Linked DNA regions of Homo sapiens. The protein of the gene in region 1 purifies or fractionates together with the protein of each later gene. This does not show direct contact. Each region holds a gene or a part of one and is shown in the gene's direction. Other genes may lie near its edges. The genes, in order: BRAT1, CD40, HTR1E and WDR73.

Region 1 (4,277 bases):
ACCTGGCTAACTTTGTTATCTTTGGTAGAGATGGGGTCTCACTATGTTGCCCAGGCTGGTCTCAAACTCCTGGTCTCAAGCGATCATCCTGCCTCGGCCTCCCAAAGTGTTGGGATACAGTCGTGAGCCACTGCTCCCAGCCAAGAATTTCTACATAGCAAGGCATGAGAGCTCGAGAGCCTCCCAGAGCTGTGTCTTCCAGCTTCAAGTGCCTCAGACAGGCACCGCTGAGTCTGTCGGGATGCGTGGTGTGAGCTTCAGGGCCCTTGCCCGTCTACCACGACGGCTTCTCTTGGTGCCTCACAGGCCCTCGCCAGGTTGTGCGAAGGCACATCCAGTACCGTTAGCTTGCCGTTCACGATGCCCCCCAGTTAAGCAGCTGCAGGCTCCCTAGCAGCCCACCCAGGCACCATCTTGCTGCAGGACAGACTTTCCAAGGTGTCCTAGGGTGCTGCCGTACAGTGAATCCGGGGGCCCTTGTCTGTCAGCAGCTGGTATGAAAGTACCCTCCAGGCTGGGCACGGTGGCTCATGCCTATAATCCCAGCACTTTGGGAGGCTGAGGCAGGCGGATCACCTGAGGTCAGGAGTTCGAGACCAGGCTAACCAACATGGTAAAGCCCTGTCTCTACTAAAAATGAAAAAATTAGCTGGGTGTGGTGGTGGGCACCTGTAATGCCAGCTACTCAGGAGGCTGAGACAGGAAAATAGCTTGAGCCCAGGAGGCAGAGGTTGCAGTGAGCCGAGATGTGCCACTGCACTCCAGCCTAGGCAACAGAGTGGGACTGTCTCAAAAAAAAAAAAAAGAAGAAGAAAGTGTCCTCCAGAAGTATCTCCACCAGCCCTGGAAAACTGAAAACCCATCTCTGCTTTGCTCCACATCCCTGGAAACCTACCAGGTCCCCTCACCTCTTTTTTTTTTTTTTTTTTTTTTTTTTTGAGATGGAGTCTCGCTGTGTCACCCAGGCTGGTGTGCAGTGGTGCGATCTTGGCTCACTGCAACCTTCGCCTCCCGGGTTCAAGCAATTCTCCTGCCTCAGCCTTCTTAGTAGCTGGGATTACAGGTGCATGCCACCACACCCAGCAAATTTTTGTATTTCTAGTAGAGATGGGGTTTCACCATGTTGGTCAGGCTGGTCTCGAACTCCTGACCTCGTGATCTGCCCTCCTCGGCCTCCCAAAGTGCTGGGATTACAGGCTTCAGCCACTGCGCCTGGCCACCCTCACTTCTTTTTTTGCTTCCCAGCAGGGGGAGTTACTACCAGGGCTCTTTGGGGAGCCAGGACCCCTCGGCCGAGCAACCTGGGCCGTCCCCACCGTGCGCAGCGGCTGGATCCAGGGCCTGCGCTCCCTGGCACAGCACCCCAGCGCCCTGCGCTTCCTGGCCGACCATGGTGAGTGCGCCCACACCCCACCCCATTCCTCATCCTGCCTGTGTGATCCCAGGGAATTCACTGCACCTTGCTGAATCTGAGTGTCTGGTCTGTGCGATGTCTCAGGGTTGTTGCAAAGACTGCACTGTGACAGTACGGCTGTCCAGTGTTCTCTGGTTGGCAGGTCAGGCCCTAGGAGCCAGGACGGCTTTCTCAGCCACTTACAGATCAGCCGTGAGGACTCAGTCTTTGAAACTATTTGGGAGCCAGGCGTGGTGATGCGTGGCTATAGTCCCAGCTACTCGGGAGGCTGAAGCAAGAGGATCACTTGAGCCCAGGGGTTCGAGGCTACAGTGAGCAGTGGTTGAGCCACTGCACTCCAACTTAGGCAACAGAGCAAGACCCCGTCTCAAAAAAACAAGAAACGAGGCTGGGCACGGTGGCTCACGCCTGTAATCTCAGCACTTTGGGAGGCCGAGGCGGGTGGATCACCTGAGGTCAGGAGTTCAAGACCAGCCTGGCCAACATGGTGAAACCCTGTCTCTACGAGAATACAAAAATTAGCCGGGCATGATGGCGGGTGCCTGTAATCCCAGCTACTTGGGAGGCTGAGGTGGCAGAATGGCTTGAACCTGGGAGGTGGAAGTTGCAGTGAACTGAGATCGCACCATTGTACTCCACCCTGGGCAACAGAACAAGACTCTGTCTCAAAAAAAAAAAAAAAAAAAACAACAAGAAGGAACGAATTGGGAAGCATCACAAGCTGTGTGTGTTTAACGCTCGGGGGGAGGAGGTGCTTGTCTCCAGGGAGCTTCAGTTCCTGTTCTTTTTTGCTTTTGAGTGGAGAGGCATTTGGGGGCATCTTGGGGGGCCCTCTGCTATTTGTATCTTCCCTGAGGCCCTCTGCCTCCCCCAGCTCTATTCTGGCTCACCCCCTTTTCCCTCTCTTCCCCCATCCCCTACCCAGGTGCGGTCGACACCATCTTCTCCCTGCAGGGAGACTCCAGCCTGTTTGTGGCCTCGGCGGCCAGTCAGCTCCTGGTGCACGTCCTGGCTTTGTCCATGCGAGGTGGAGCCGAGGGGCAGCCCTGCCTGCCGGGGGGTGACTGGCCCGCGTGTGCCCAGAAGATCATGGATCACGTTGAAGAGTCCTTGTGCTCCGCGGCCACCCCCAAGGTCACTCAGGCCCTGAACGTCCTGACCACGACCTTCGGGCGCTGCCAGAGCCCCTGGACGGAAGCCCTGTGGGTGCGGCTGAGTCCCCGCGTGGCCTGTCTGCTGGAGAGAGACCCCATCCCCGCCGCACACTCGTTCGTGGACCTGCTTCTCTGTGTGGCTCGGTCAGGGCCCCGGGACGCAGCTGGGGGGCCTGGGTGGGCAACTGTTTTCCTCGGATAACGCCCAGGGATGTCCCACTGGCAGCCGGAGACTCTCTGAGGACATGGCCTGCAGTGAAGCGGCACCGGGGTGACCCTGGAACCCTCATGGGGAAAGGCCTGTCTTGGGCTGGGCGCCTCCAGTGCCGGAGCCATGGCAGTCTCAGCCAGGCCTCGAATGGGGTTTTGAGGGTGGGGGAGTAATTTTTCTCTCTGGGGTCTCCCTGCAGTTCTCCCGTGTTCAGTTCTTCCGACGGCAGCCTGTGGGAGACAGTGGCGCGGGCTCTGAGCTGCCTGGGTCCCACCCACATGGGACCCCTGGCTTTGGGGATCCTGAAGCTCGAGCACTGGTATGGTCTGGGGTGCATTTCATTCCGAGGCGGGTGCTGGGAGCTGGGGCAGGCAGGGAGGTTGAGAGCGCAGCCCTCATGGCAGGGGAGTTCCGGACACCAGGGACAGTCAGGCGGCCGTGCGGGGTGTGACTGGGTGGTGCGTGGGTTGCGCGCGGCAGCTTCTGAAGGTTCTTTAGCAACAGAATAATTGTTTCAGACCAAAGCTCTGCGAGATCCCCAGAGGTGAGAAGGATGCGGGAGCTGCTCTGCTCAGAGCAGGGTGGTCCTGCCGACGCCCTGCGCTCCGCTGCCCTCCCACCTGTCCCCCACCGCAGCTTTGGTTGGGGGTTTCGGAGCTCCCCAGCACACACACCATGCGGGTGGGGGGCCTGGGGGCGGTGCAACGGCAGAGCCTGGGGTCAGGACAGGTGGGAAGGCCGTGGATGGCCTGCCAGTGTTCCAGGTGGGCTCACAATAGGGGTGGAAGTGACCTCAGGACCTGCTGCCCACAGGGCCCAGGGGTACCATGAGGGTCCAGCTCTGAGCTCCGGGGTCTCCGAATGTTTAGGAGAGAGTAGACCGGGGGAGGATGGAGGAACAGGCCCGGCCCTGCAGGAATGCATTGTGGGGACACTGCCTCCACCTAGGCCCAGACGTGAGGGCAGGTCCCTCCCACAGAGTGGACGCTGTACACACCTGGGGGCACCCCATCCCTGTCCCCCTGAGCGGGCACTGCCCCTCTCTCTGGGTGCATGGCCAGGCCCTCCTGGAGGCCCCTCAGTATCTGCTCCTAAGGACATCAGGAGTGTCAGGCCCATCTCCTTGGTCAGGCCTGTCCTCCCCGCCACTCTGTCCCATGGCATCCCCTGGCCAGTGGCCTGCAGAGAATGTTTCTCGGGGGGTGTCCCAACCCCCTGGCTGATTTGCCCCAGGCTTGCTGGGGACATTAGGAGCACAGCCAACTTGTCTCGCAGCCAGGGTCGCGGCACTCACCTCGCGTTTGTCTCCAGTCCACAGGCACTGAGGACCCAGGCCTTCCAGGTCCTTCTCCAGCCCCTGGCCTGTGTCCTGAAGGCCACGGTTCAGGCCCCCGGACCCCCAGGTGTGCTGCTTAGAAAGGGCTGGGAGGGCAGAACCTGGGTCCCTGCGGCTGGGGGAAGGGAGATGGATGAGAGTAGCTGGCTCGCCACCCCCGCC
Region 2 (4,277 bases), on another chromosome or scaffold:
CAGGCACGGTGGCTTGTGCCTGTAATCCCAGCACTTTGGGAGGCCAAGGCAGTCAGATCACTTGAGGTCAGGAGTTTTAGATCAGCCTGGCCAACATGGTGAAACCCTGTCTCTACTAAAAATACATAAATTAGCCGGGCATAGTGGTACACACCTGTAATCCCAGCTACTCAGGAGGCTGAGGCTGGAGAATTGCTTGAACCCAGGAGATAGAGGTTGCAGTGGGCTGAGATGATGCCACTGCACTCCAGCCTGGGCGATGGAGCGAGACTCTGTCTCAAAAAATAAAATAAAAGTATTGAAATTAACAATAAGTAATTAATAGCATGGGTGGTACCTGGATGTAGTAAAATGGTGAAGATGAAACACAAGTTGATGGAGAGAGGAGCATTGAGACCTGAGTTCTCATTTGGACTCTGTCACTGTGAGACTCTGGGCAAGTGACCCTCCTCTTTGGTGCTCAGTCTCAACTATCTGTAAAATGAAAGTGTGAGTTTACCCTTCCAGCTTTACATTCTAGCATTTTATGAGGGAAGGGCTGGATGAACAGATGATGAGGAGTTGGAGGAAGAAAACATGATGGGCTTTGGAAAGGAGCAGGAAGGGAAGCAGAAGAATAGGAGGAAGAGGCCAAGTGCTAAACATAGCCCCAAACAGCACTGGGACCAGCTGAAGTCAGCCAGCTTCAGGACTCCAGGGGAGCTGCTGGAGTCCCCATATCCTATGGGATCTTTGGGAAGAGGAATGACTCAGGCATCAAGCCCCAAGGAATTCTGTTCTGTTCAGAGAATATTGTGAGTTTACAGTACCATTGCTTTGTAAAAATACCAGAATGATTCTCTGGGTGCGATTATAATCAGCTCAGTTGACAATTTACTTGAAAACAAACATGCCAAATATCATGCAGGTTCCACTTTCTGTTTTGACTTGCACTTCAGTTTGCAGCCTCTGTCCTGGATGACTTTTACCTTTCTGCTGAAGAAGTTGCAACGGAGATTTCAAGATCCCTTCAAATTGCACAATTCTGTTTTTAGGTCCATCCAGAACCACCCACTGCATGCAGAGAAAAACAGTACCTAATAAACAGTCAGTGCTGTTCTTTGTGCCAGCCAGGTGAGATGCCAACCCTCTAGCCCCATCATGGAGTCCCCCTTTGCTTTGGTGGCAGACGCAGACCCCATATGTTAACTGTAAACTCAAATCTGAAACGACCCATTTCCCAGCCCTGCTTCACTGTCAGAATGTTCTGGTTCCCTCTCTACCAGGTAAAACTCTGTCTACCCTGAACTAGGGATCCCAGCTTCTCCATCTTCCTCGCCTGATTATGAAGGATCCAAGACTTTCATCTTTGAATCCCCTACCCTAAAGCCTGGCCTGATCATTGTGTGGTTAGTGTCTGACTCATGGAGTTGGCCAGAGCCCTCCCTCATTTCCTGATGTTTTCCAGGACAGAAACTGGTGAGTGACTGCACAGAGTTCACTGAAACGGAATGCCTTCCTTGCGGTGAAAGCGAATTCCTAGACACCTGGAACAGAGAGACACACTGCCACCAGCACAAATACTGCGACCCCAGTGCGTGCGCTGTTGGGAAAGGGACGCTTGGGAACCGGGCTGATATTCCCGACAATGCAGCCATTCTAATTTTATGTAGCCAGGGTCTGCTCTGATTGGTTGGAGTCCGGGCTGTACTGATCATTAAATGATTTGATTGCCATCTCTACTTGGAAGAGGGTCTGAGGAAGAAAGAGCAGGCAATGTGGGGAGTGAGGCTCAGAGCATGGCCCAGCAGGGGGTTCCCATCCTTCCTGCCCTTCTCTTCTCAGACCTAGGGCTTCGGGTCCAGCAGAAGGGCACCTCAGAAACAGACACCATCTGCACCTGTGAAGAAGGCTGGCACTGTACGAGTGAGGCCTGTGAGAGCTGTGTCCTGCACCGCTCATGCTCGCCCGGCTTTGGGGTCAAGCAGATTGGTAAGTGGCTCATCTGGGAATCAGTTTTGGAGGGGGACAGAGGAGCTTAGGGCCCAAGGTGAGGGGCTGGGCAGTGGGCACTTAGCCCCAGAGGCAGAGGAAGCAGAGGCTCCAACCTATGTCGGTATCCCCACTGGAGTGAGCTGCAGACGGGACCTTGTTCATTCTGCCTTCTGCCATGGGGATCTGCCTTTGAAGGGCAATGGGAGAAGTCCTCCTGGGGACTGCAGCTGTCGGGGGCAGTACCACATCGGGGGAAGAGTGCTCAAGGCAGGAGCTCTTCCCGTCCTGCCTGGCCACTGGCTGCCTTGTGAGCCGGACAGGTGGTCCACTGTGATGGTTAATGTCCCCCTCCCCACCCACTCCCAGCTACAGGGGTTTCTGATACCATCTGCGAGCCCTGCCCAGTCGGCTTCTTCTCCAATGTGTCATCTGCTTTCGAAAAATGTCACCCTTGGACAAGGTATAAGCACTCATCCCTTGTGTTTCCTGCTCTAAGAGTGGCATGGAGCTGCCTCCATTCTCTCCAGCCACCTGTCCTGTCCCTGCTCCCAGAGGTCCACACACACTCATGTACTTGTGAAGCATCTGCAGAGTGGCCTCATGGCCAACCAGACAGGCACATTTCCACATTTTTTTTGCCTGCTGTCTCTTTGAGGTAATAGACACTGTTGATCTCTCGCTTCATGAGAGCCTCCTATCTTGGGGGTATTGGGACACTTATTTTAGCTTTCCTTCTGCCCCTCCTGCTTCTCCTCAGTTTTCCTCGTCTTGCTTTCACCTTACCTGGCTTTCTAGGGCTTTCTGGGCTCTGGGTGCTCACCCTGAGGGCCTCCCTCTCTTACCTCCAACTCCAAACCCACACCAGGTCCTGCCACTGGCTGTCTACGTGTTTTGGGAACTTACTGTCTCCACTGTTGTCACTTTAGTTTGGGCCTCATCACTGTGGTCTGGGTGATGCCTTTTCTGCCTCCTGGCCTCCCTGCCTCTGTCTCTCCCCTCCTGCTGGTTCTGTCTCCATCCTCTTGCCAACATGAGCGTTCGACAGTTTCTTTCAAATCATGACACTCTCCTATTTGAGATGCTTCCTGTCTCTCTGTTGGAACTAAGACTCCTTAGCATGGCACCCAACCTTCCTGTTGCATTTCCTGCTCTCTTTCCTGCATCGCATAGCTTCATGCTACTTGCAATCCTCTGAACACACTGTTCATTCTCTTCCATCAAACTCATCTGCCTGGAATACCTTAAACATGGGCCCCAGGCCAGGCGCGGTGGCTCTTGCCTGTAATCTCAGCACTTTGGATGCCAAGGCGGGTGGATCACTTGAGGTCAGGAGTTCAAGACCAGCCAGCACAACATGGTAAAAACCCATCTCTACTAAAAATACCAAAAAATTAGCTGGGTGTGGTGGTGGGCGCCTGTAATCCCAGCTCCTCGGGAGGCTGAGGCAGGAGAATCACTTGAACCCGGAAGGTGGAGTTTGCAGTGAGCCAAGATAGCGCCACTGCACTCCAGCCTGGGCAACAGAGCGACATTCTGTCTCAAAAAACAAACACCTGCCCCATTAACTTTTTGCATTTGATTTTTAAAAATGGGCAAGATAGGCACATGGGACAGAAGGCACAAAAGAGCCAAAGTGATGTCTTTCTCCCATCCCTGCCCCTTAGGCTCCCAGTTCTTTCTGGAGGGAGCCATTGTTCCTTGCATATCCTTCCAGAGATTCTACATATAAACAAACCAACACACACACACACACACACAAACACACACAAAATTTCCCTCCTTTTACTTTTGCACAAATAGGAGTATACATTTTATTTGTTAACTGTCTGCCTTTCCCTAATAGATTGAAAATTCCTTAAATGTAGAAACTTGGCCTTTTTTTTTTCTTCCATTGATACATCCCCTATACCTGGAACAGTACCTGACGCATGGTAGGTGCTTAAATTTTTACTGATAAATGTTGACTGATAACTGGAGGCACCACTGGTATAGTTTTTTTTTTTTTTTTTTTTTTTTTTTTTTTTTGAGACAGAGTCTCACTCTGTCGCCCAGGCTGGAGTGCAGTGGCGCAATCTCGGCTCACTGCAAGCTCTGCCTCCCAGGTTCACGCCATTCTCCTGCCTCAGCCTCCTGAGTAGCTGGGACTATAGGCGCCCGCCACCACACCCGGCTAATTTTTTTGTATTTTTAGTAGAGACGGCGTTTCACCGTGTTAGCCAGGATGGTCTTGATCTCCTGACCTCGTGATCCGTCTGCCTTGGCCTCCCAAAGTGCTGGGATTACAGGCGTGAGCCACCGTGCCC
Region 3 (4,277 bases), on another chromosome or scaffold:
CATCTCTAAACCTCAGTTTCCTCATTTGTTGGGGCTCACATAACAGTACTATGTCATAGGGCTATTTATGAGGATTAAATGTGTGTATTCATTATTGCTAAATAATAAATTACCCCAAAACCTAATGGCTTAAAGCAACAGATTTTTATTATCTCTATGATCATAGTTCCATGGGTTGGGAATCTGGGTATGGCTTAGCTAGGTCCTCTGGCTCAGGTCTGTCACTCACAGGCTGCAAAGTTTCAGCCGAGACTGCAGACATCTCAAGGCTCAACTGGGGAAAGGTAACGCTTCCAAGCTCGCTCACGTGGCTGTTGACAAGCCTCAGGTCCCAGCTGGCTGCTGGCTGGAGACGTTCTTTTGCTACCACATGGACCTCTCTATAGGGCTACTAACAAAACAGAGTGCTTCATGCAGATGTTGCAGCTTGCTGTCCTTGGAGCAAGGGCTAAGATTGAAAGATAGCAAAATAGAAGCCAAGGTCTTTTTGTAACCTGATATCAGAAGTGATATCCCATGGCTTCTGCTGTGTTCCTCATTAGAGACAAGTCACTAGTTTCAGCCTAATTCAAGGGGAAGGGATTACACAGTGGGAGGAATACCTACAGGAACCAAATCATTGAGAGCCACCTGAGATACTGCCTGCCACAATATAAGACATCAGAAGCTGTTTGATAAAGACTCAATTCAGTATCACCTCGTGGTTTTATCTCATAGTAATGTTCTCAGACTGAAATTAGATAATCTGTCAAAGAATTTGTAAAATATAAAGCTCTATACAATATCAAGATTTTATTAGTTTTATTAATGCTGAGAATCCAGTTCCACTTTATAGATAGTGATATAAGAACAGCAAATCAATGATTAAGAGATGTGAATTTTACACCTTGCTGTGTGTGTGACCTTGGAAAAGCCATTTATTTGTTTCATACCTTAGTTCTCTCATGAAAGTGATGATAATAACAGACTTACCAGGATAAAATAGATAATAGACAGCCATGCAGCACATTGACAATATTTTGGTCACCCACAAACCACATATATGACAGTGGTCCCACAAATTATAATGGAGCTGAAAAATTCCTACAGCCTAGTGACATCATCGCTATTGCAATGTTGTTGTAGCACAATGTATCGCTCATGTGCTTGTGATGAGGCTGGTGTAAGCAAACCTGTGCTGCCAGTTGTATAAAAGTATAGCACATACAATTATGTATAGTATATAATACTTGATAATAAACAACTGTTACTGGTTTATACATTTACTGTACTATACTTTTTATCATTATTTTGGGGTGTGTTCCTACTTAATTAAAAAAAAAAAGTGAAAAGAAGTTTAACTGTAAAACAGCCTCAGGCAGGTCCTTCAGAAGGTATCCCAGAAAACAGCATTGTTATTACAGGAGATGACAGCTCCATGCATGTTATTGCCCCGAAGGACCTTCCAACGGACAGGATGTGTAAATAGATACAGTGATACTGATAATCCTGAGCCTGTGTAGGCTAAGGCTAATGTGTCTGTATCTTAGTTTTGTTTGTTTGTTTGTTTGTTTGTTTGAGACAGAGTCTCAGTCGCCCAGGCTGGAGTGCAGCAGCACAATCTCACCTCATTGCAACCTCCGCCTCCCAGGTTCAAGCAATTCTCCCACCTCAGCTTCCTAGTAGCTGGGATTACAGGCACTCACCACCATGCCCAGCTAATTTTTTGAATTTTTAGTAGAGACGGGATTTCACCATATTGGCCATGCTGGTCTTGAACCCCCGACCTCAAATGATTCGCCCGCCTCAGCCTCCCAAAGTGCTGGGATTACAGGCGTGAGTATCTTAGTTTTTAACAAAAAAGTGTGAAAAGGAAAGAAAAAATTTAAAGTTTTAAAAATAGAAAAAAGTTTATAAAATAATGTTATAAATAATGAGAATATTTTTGTATAGCTATACAATGTGTTTTAAGCTAAGTGCTATTACAAAAAGAGTCAAAAAGGTTTTTTTAATTTAAAAGTTTGGGGGTTTTTTGTTTTGTTTTTGTTTTTGTTTTTGTTTTTTTGAGATGACGTTTCTTTCTTGCCTCCCAGACTGGAGTGCAGTGGCGTGGTGATCCCAGTTCACTGCAACGTCCGCCTCCCCAGTTTCAAGCAATTCTCCTGCCTCAGCCTCCCAAGTAACTGGGATTACAGGCATGTGCCACCATGCCCAGCTAAATTTTGTATTTTTAGTAGAGATGGGGATTCACTATGTTGGCCAGGCTGGTCTCAATCTCCTGACCTCAGGTGGTTTACCTGCCTCGGCCTCCCAAAGTGCTGGTATTACAGGCATGAGCCACCACACCCGGCCTAATTAAAAAGTTTATAAAGTAAAAAAGTTATAGTAAGATAAGGTTAACTTATTATTGGAGAGAGAAAAAATGGTTTTTACAAATTAGGTATAGCTTAAGTGTACAGTGTTTTTAAAGTCTACAGTAGTGTACAGTAATGTACTAGGCCTTCATATTCGCTCAACACTGACTCACTGACTCACCCAGAGCAGCTTCTAATCCTGCAAACTCCATTCATGATAAGTTCCCTACACAAGTATCCCATTTTTTATCTTTATACCATATTTTCACTGTACCCTTTCTACGTTTAGATACACAAATACTATTGTGTTACATTTGCCTACAGTATTCAATACAGTAACATGCTGTCTGGCTTTGTAGCCTAGAAGCAATAGGCTATGCCACATAGCCTAGGTGTGCAGTAGGCTACACCATCTAGGTTTGTGGAAGTACACATCTTGATGTTCACACAATGATGAAATGGCCTAACAATGCATTTCTCAGAATGTATGATGCATGGCTATATATAAAATTATGCTGAAATCTAAAAAAATGAGATGATGGTCATAATGACAATGATGAAGATGACTATATGTTTCAGCTTCTACTCCATGGTCCTTTGAGGACAACTGAAGTAACTAGATATGATTTTTGTCAGTTGTGTTTTAAGTGTATGTATCAAATCCAGCTACCCCAAGTTTTACAATAACTTTATATGGTTTAATCTTATCTTGCTGAACACATTAGATATGCTGCCCTGAAAAGTGGCTTGCAAACAGAATTTTTAGAAACTGAACCATAATTAAAATGCACAGAGGCCGGGCACGGTGGCTCACACCTGTAATCCCAGTACTTTGGGAAGCCAAGACAGGCGGATCACCTGAGGTCAGGAGTTTGAGACCAGCCTGACCAACATGAAGAAACCCTGTCTCTACTAAAAATACAAAATTAGCCATGCGTGGTGGCACATGGCTGTAATCCCAGCTACTCAGGAAGCTGAGGCAGGAGAATCGCTTGAACCCAGGAGGCGGAGGTTGTGGTGAGCCGAGATCGCGCCATTGCACTCCAGCCTGGGCAACAAGAGCGAAACTCTGTCTCAAAAAAAAAATGCACAGAGAAGGTTTCCATGTATCTAGTGGAATTGTACAATGCTTATGTGATCTTGTGATATCATTAATATTTTGTAATATAAATAATTATCCTCATTATTTTAATTTTCTGGCATTGTAGCAACACCTGTATAAATATTTATAGTTACTTAAGAACTCACAAAACAACCTTTTGAAGTAGGCAAATAAAACCAACTCTTGGTTATCTCAAAGAGTTCTTTTTGTTTGATTCTTGTGTTATCTACATTTCTTCTCTCACTGTAAATTGGCATAAATTTGGCAGATACAAAACAAGTAAAGTTCAAACTCCTCCACTCAACCACTTTAAGGGATTTTTTTTCCTGCTTATAAGTATATCACATGTTCATTGTAGAAAATTTGGAAATGCAGAAAAGTATAAAAAATGTAGTTAAAGTTACTCTTATTGCCACCACCAAGAGGCAGCCACTATTGATACTTTGATGAATTTCTGCCTTAGTGCTTTCCCTCTCTATAGGGAGAAAAGAGTGGTTTCTTTTTCAATGAAATCAGGAGTATGTTATATACTTTTCTTGTGTTCTGCTTTCTCTAATTAACATTATTTTTTAAATGATATTTCCATTTATTGATTCAACAACATAAATTAGTAAATATTGACTATATCCAAAGTGGAATTTGGATGAACTGTAAGAAATATAGTTAATAATTGAATTCAGATTTTTTAAATCAATTCCAACAATTGTGAAGTAGTTTCTTTTCCTTTTTTTAAAAAATTTTACTTTAAGTTTGGTGATACATACGCAGAATGTGCAGGTTTGTTACATAGGTGTACATGTGCCACGGTGGTTCACTGCACCTATCAACCTGTCATCTAGGTT
Region 4 (4,277 bases), on another chromosome or scaffold:
ATGGAAGCTTGGGCTCAGTCTCCCTAAAGTTGATTGAGCCTGCTCCTTATCTGTGAAATGAGGGTGGTTGGCCTTGATGATCTTGCAGTAAGATGTCCTGATATGGGAAGTGGAGTCCCAAGCTAAGTGTGCTGGAAAGGGGAAGGGACCTGTGTGGATAAGCTCCCCATGGTCTGGACTGATTTTGTCTTTTCTGAATAGATTGCTGGTTACCAGTGGCCTTCCAGGTTGTTATCTGCAGGTGTGGCAGGTTGCAGAGGACAGTGGTGAGTGAATTTGACTTGATGGGGTTTGGGGTTCTAGGAAAGTGTGACTCATACACCCCTGTCCCCTAATCTGAGCCAGTTAAGAAGGAGACTCAGGCTGGGGACAGTCTCATGCCTGTAATTGTAGCACTTTGGGAGGCTGAGCTGGGTGGATCACTTGAATTCAGGAGTTGAAGACCACCTTGTACAACATGGTGAAACCTGTCTCTATTAAAAATACAAAAAATTAGCCGGGCATGGTGGTAGGCACCTGTAATCCCTGCTACTGGGGAGACTGAGGCAGGAGAATTGCTTGAACCTGGGAGGCGGAGGTTACAGTGAGCCGAGATCATGCCACTGCACTCCAGCCTGGGCAACAAGAGCAAAACTCCGTCTCCAAAAAAAAAAGTAGTAGTAGACTCAGAGCCAGGTGGGAATTAATCTACTTTAATGCAGACAAGGTGAATTAGCAACCATAGCATGGCATCCAAGCCCCAAATGGAGCTTCCTGTAACCTGCTCCTGGAATTGAGTTCATCCAGAGAACTACTCTCCCTAGGCAGGGGCAGTGGCAACAGCAGAGCTTAGGCTGCTCAGGTGAGCTCACCTCTTTGGCAGCATTAAGCATATATTAAGAGAAGCCTCAGATGTAGAATACAGAGAGGAGAACCTCCCTGCTAACCAAGCAGGTGGAGACAACCAAATAAAAACTAAAACTTGGCTGGGCGCAGTGGCTCATGCCTGTAATCCCAGCACTTTGGGAGGCCAAGGTAGGTGGGTCACCTGACCAGGAGTTTGAGCCCAGCCCGAGCAACATGGCGAAACCCCGTCTCTACTAAAAATACAAAAAAATTAGCTGGGCATGAGGGTGCACATCTGTAATTCCAGCTACTCAGGAGGCTGAGGCAGAAGAATTTCTTGAACCTGAGAGGCGGAGGCTGCAGTGAGCTGAGATTGTGCCACTGGACTCCAGCCTGGGCAACAGAGTGAGACTCTGTCTCAAAAAAACAAAAGAACCAAAACAAAACTTGACTCAAAGCCAAGGATGTTCCATTCAGTGTAAAAAAGATGTGGACTTTCTTGTCCACCTTACAAGACAATGACATCTGTAATGTGACCTGTACTTGCTAGGCTTTAGCAAGTCACTCGAGGTCATGGAACATGTTTTTGAAGAAATAATATCAGTTCATGAATTCTGTACCTGTTTCTTGTCGCTGAAGGGGTAAGTGACATCAGCAGCATGTTCATTCCTTTTCTTGTCTTCTACCTGTTCTCCACAAAAGTATAAAAAGCCAGAATTGCTTTTTGGGTTTTGAGATGGCATTGTCTTCCATTTGCAAAAAACAGTTTATAAGACAAATAATAAAGAAATTGAAATGTTTCTGATGGTTTCAAAAATGTAAACATAAGCCAGAGTAGTTATGTCTCAACATCATCTCTTGCCAGCCGGCAGCTCCTTTTCTTCCTTGATCTTCTAAATGTACAGGGGAAGACAGCTGGCAGCCTGTCATGTTTCAAACCTTCATTAAAGTTCTGGATTTTGGCCTCTTCGTTTTCCCCTAGATGTCATTAAAGCTGTCAGCACCATTGCTGTGCATGAGAAAGAGGAGAGTCTCTGGCCTAGGGTGGCCGTCTTCTCCACATTGGCACCCGGAGTCCTCCATGGGGCGAGGCTCCGAAGTCTGCAGGTCGTTGATCTGGAGTCCCGGAAGACCACGTACACCTCAGGTACCGTGGTACTTTGTCCCTTGCTTGCTGCTCCAGCCGGCATCACCCCCCAGCCCAACTCAGCCACTATAAAAACTGAGTTCAACTCTCTGTGCCAGGTGTTGGGGATACACAGTGAATAAGAGGTAAGCCCTGGCCTCTAAGGGCTCCTATGCTGGGGCAGGATTAGGCAGTCCCAGGGACCAGCACCCAACCAGCTGAGCAGACAATGGTGAGATGAGTGGGAAGGGAGATGTGATTTATTCTGCCTGGGACTGGTGGGAAGGGACCTGTGACCAGCCAGCCCTGCCAAATTGCCAGACCCATCTGCCTCCAGCCGCTTGTCTCCTTTGCTGTCGGTCTTCCAGATGTCAGTGACAGTGAGGAGCTGAGTAGCCTGCAGGTCCTAGATGCAGACACCTTTGCCTTCTGCTGTGCTTCAGGCCGGCTGGGGCTTGTTGACACCCGGCAGAAGTGGGCACCGTTGGAGAATCGCAGCCCTGGCCCTGGGTCTGGTGGAGAGAGATGGTGTGCTGAAGTTGGGAGCTGGGGCCAGGGCCCTGGGCCCAGCATTGCCAGCCTTGGCTCAGATGGGCGTCTTTGTCTTCTTGACCCCCGGGATCTCTGCCATCCTGTGAGCTCAGTCCAGTGCCCAGTATCCGTACCTAGCCCTGACCCAGAGCTGCTGCGAGTGACTTGGGCCCCAGGCCTGAAGAATTGCTTGGCCATCTCAGGTACTGCCGAGCAGGATTTCGTCTTGTTATCTGATCTCTTTCTTCCAGGAGACTGTTGGGTGCTCAGGAAGGAGCCTCCAGCACCATGATAAACCTGGCTCCAGGAGTTAAAGTTGCTCACAGAGAAATTCGAACTCTCCAGGTTCTTCAGTGGCAGGCCTTTTCCTACCCTGGCTACTAAACTTCCACACATTGGCAGCAGGCCTTTCCTAGCCTAGCAGGAATTCAGGTCTCAGGTTGGTGGAGGGGCCTGCAGACAGTAAGACACTGGGACAGACATCGGGCTGGGTCAGAAAGAAAAGGGGACAGTGGCTAACACGGTGAAACCCCGTCCCTACTAAAAATACAAAAAATTAGCCAGGCATGGTGGCAGGCGCCTGTAGTCCCAGCTACTTAGGAGGCTGAGGCAGAAGAATGGCGTGAACCTGGGAGGCGGAGCTTGCAGTGAGCTGAGATTGCACCACTGCACTCCAGCCTGGGCAACAGAGCGAGACTGTCTCAAAAAGAAAAAAAAAGAAAAAAAAAAAAAAAGCAGCAGGGACAGCACCTCAAGGGTACTTCTCAGCCTACTTGCCTTTTGAAATGTAGCAAGTTGGCCGGGTGCGGTGGCTCACACCTATAATCCCAGCACTTTGGGAGGTCGAGGCGGGTGGATCACAAGGTCAGGAGATCGAGACCATCGTGGCCAACATGGTGAAACCCCGTCTCTATGAAAATAAAAAAAATTAGCCGGGTGTTTTGGTGCACGCCTGTAGTCCCACCTACTTGGGAGGCTGAGGCAGGGGAATCGCTTGAACCCGGGAGTCAGAGGTTGCAGTGAGCTGAGATGACGCCACTGCACTCCAGACTGGCGACAGAGCAAGACTCTGTCTCAAAAAAAAAAAAAAAAAAAAAAGTAGCAAGCCAGCTAGGTCAGCAGGCCCCTGGTTCTGGTCTGGTGGTAGCTAGTTGCTTGCGGCACTTAATGTGGGTATCTAAAAGCCAACAGGAAGGATCCGTCGAGGCAGGTGGGGGTTGAAAAAAATCATTAAGAGAGCAAGAAAGGATGATTGGAAATGCCAGGATCCAGAAAGAACAGAAGAGCCAAGCTCAGGTAGAGGGGCTGGCTCTTCAGTACCAGGAAGATGGCAGGATGGAATGAGTGTGTGTGCAGCTAGATCGTGCAGGGACGTGAAGGTATTTCTCTCCAAAGGCTTCTGTTTCCCCCATCGAGTAGGAGACAAGGCCATCTGCTGAAAGGGACCCAGAGGTAGGGGACTGGACTCTGGGGCAACTTGAAAAGGTTTGAAGAAGTCTCTTAAGCCTCAGTTTCCTGGGTAAAATAACAGTATCTGTGTCATACAGTTCTGAGGATTAAAAGAGCTAATACTTGTCCAGAATTAGCCTTCGAGCCTCACGCATAACAGGTGCACAACGGATGCTCATGGTTACATGCCCCACGGAGTCATCAGCTGCCAACACTGAGGGCAGATGCTACTTGCCCGTGGTTAGCCTTTTAAGTGCCTTGATTCCTCATCCAATAGCCTGTTTTGGTACCATAGAACAAATTATAAAAAGTATTTTAGGGGCTGGGTGCCTGTAATCCCAGCATT

What was found.
Region 2: the proteins of BRAT1 (region 1) and CD40 purify together in Homo sapiens (co-immunoprecipitation; one large-scale study listed by IntAct). This does not show direct contact.
Region 3: the proteins of BRAT1 (region 1) and HTR1E purify together in Homo sapiens (co-immunoprecipitation; one large-scale study listed by IntAct). This does not show direct contact.
Region 4: the proteins of BRAT1 (region 1) and WDR73 purify together in Homo sapiens (affinity purification with mass spectrometry, with the first as the bait; one large-scale study listed by BioGRID). This does not show direct contact.

What each region holds. Positions count from the first base shown.
Region 1 is NC_000007.14:2,542,025-2,546,301, reverse strand, and holds part of BRAT1 (integrator complex assembly factor BRAT1), read left to right. Parts: intron 1-1,245; coding exon 1,246-1,393; intron 1,394-2,339; coding exon 2,340-2,712; intron 2,713-2,978; coding exon 2,979-3,098; intron 3,099-4,090; coding exon 4,091-4,182; intron 4,183-4,277. UniProt on the Homo sapiens protein: Component of a multiprotein complex required for the assembly of the RNA endonuclease module of the integrator complex.
Region 2 is NC_000020.11:46,120,786-46,125,062, forward strand, and holds part of CD40 (tumor necrosis factor receptor superfamily member 5 isoform 1 precursor), read left to right. Parts: intron 1-1,034; coding exon 1,035-1,113; intron 1,114-1,447; coding exon 1,448-1,573; intron 1,574-1,824; coding exon 1,825-1,971; intron 1,972-2,340; coding exon 2,341-2,434; intron 2,435-4,277.
Region 3 is NC_000006.12:86,943,708-86,947,984, forward strand, and holds part of HTR1E (5-hydroxytryptamine receptor 1E), read left to right. Parts: intron 1-4,277. UniProt on the Homo sapiens protein: G-protein coupled receptor for 5-hydroxytryptamine (serotonin). Also functions as a receptor for various alkaloids and psychoactive substances.
Region 4 is NC_000015.10:84,643,879-84,648,155, reverse strand, and holds part of WDR73 (integrator complex assembly factor WDR73), read left to right. Parts: intron 1-201; coding exon 202-266; intron 267-1,807; coding exon 1,808-1,972; intron 1,973-2,070; exon of another isoform or gene 2,071-2,183; intron 2,184-2,319; coding exon 2,320-2,685; intron 2,686-4,277. UniProt on the Homo sapiens protein: Component of a multiprotein complex required for the assembly of the RNA endonuclease module of the integrator complex. Associates with INTS9 and INTS11 in the cytoplasm, stabilizing the INTS9-INTS11 heterodimer and blocking the active site of INTS11.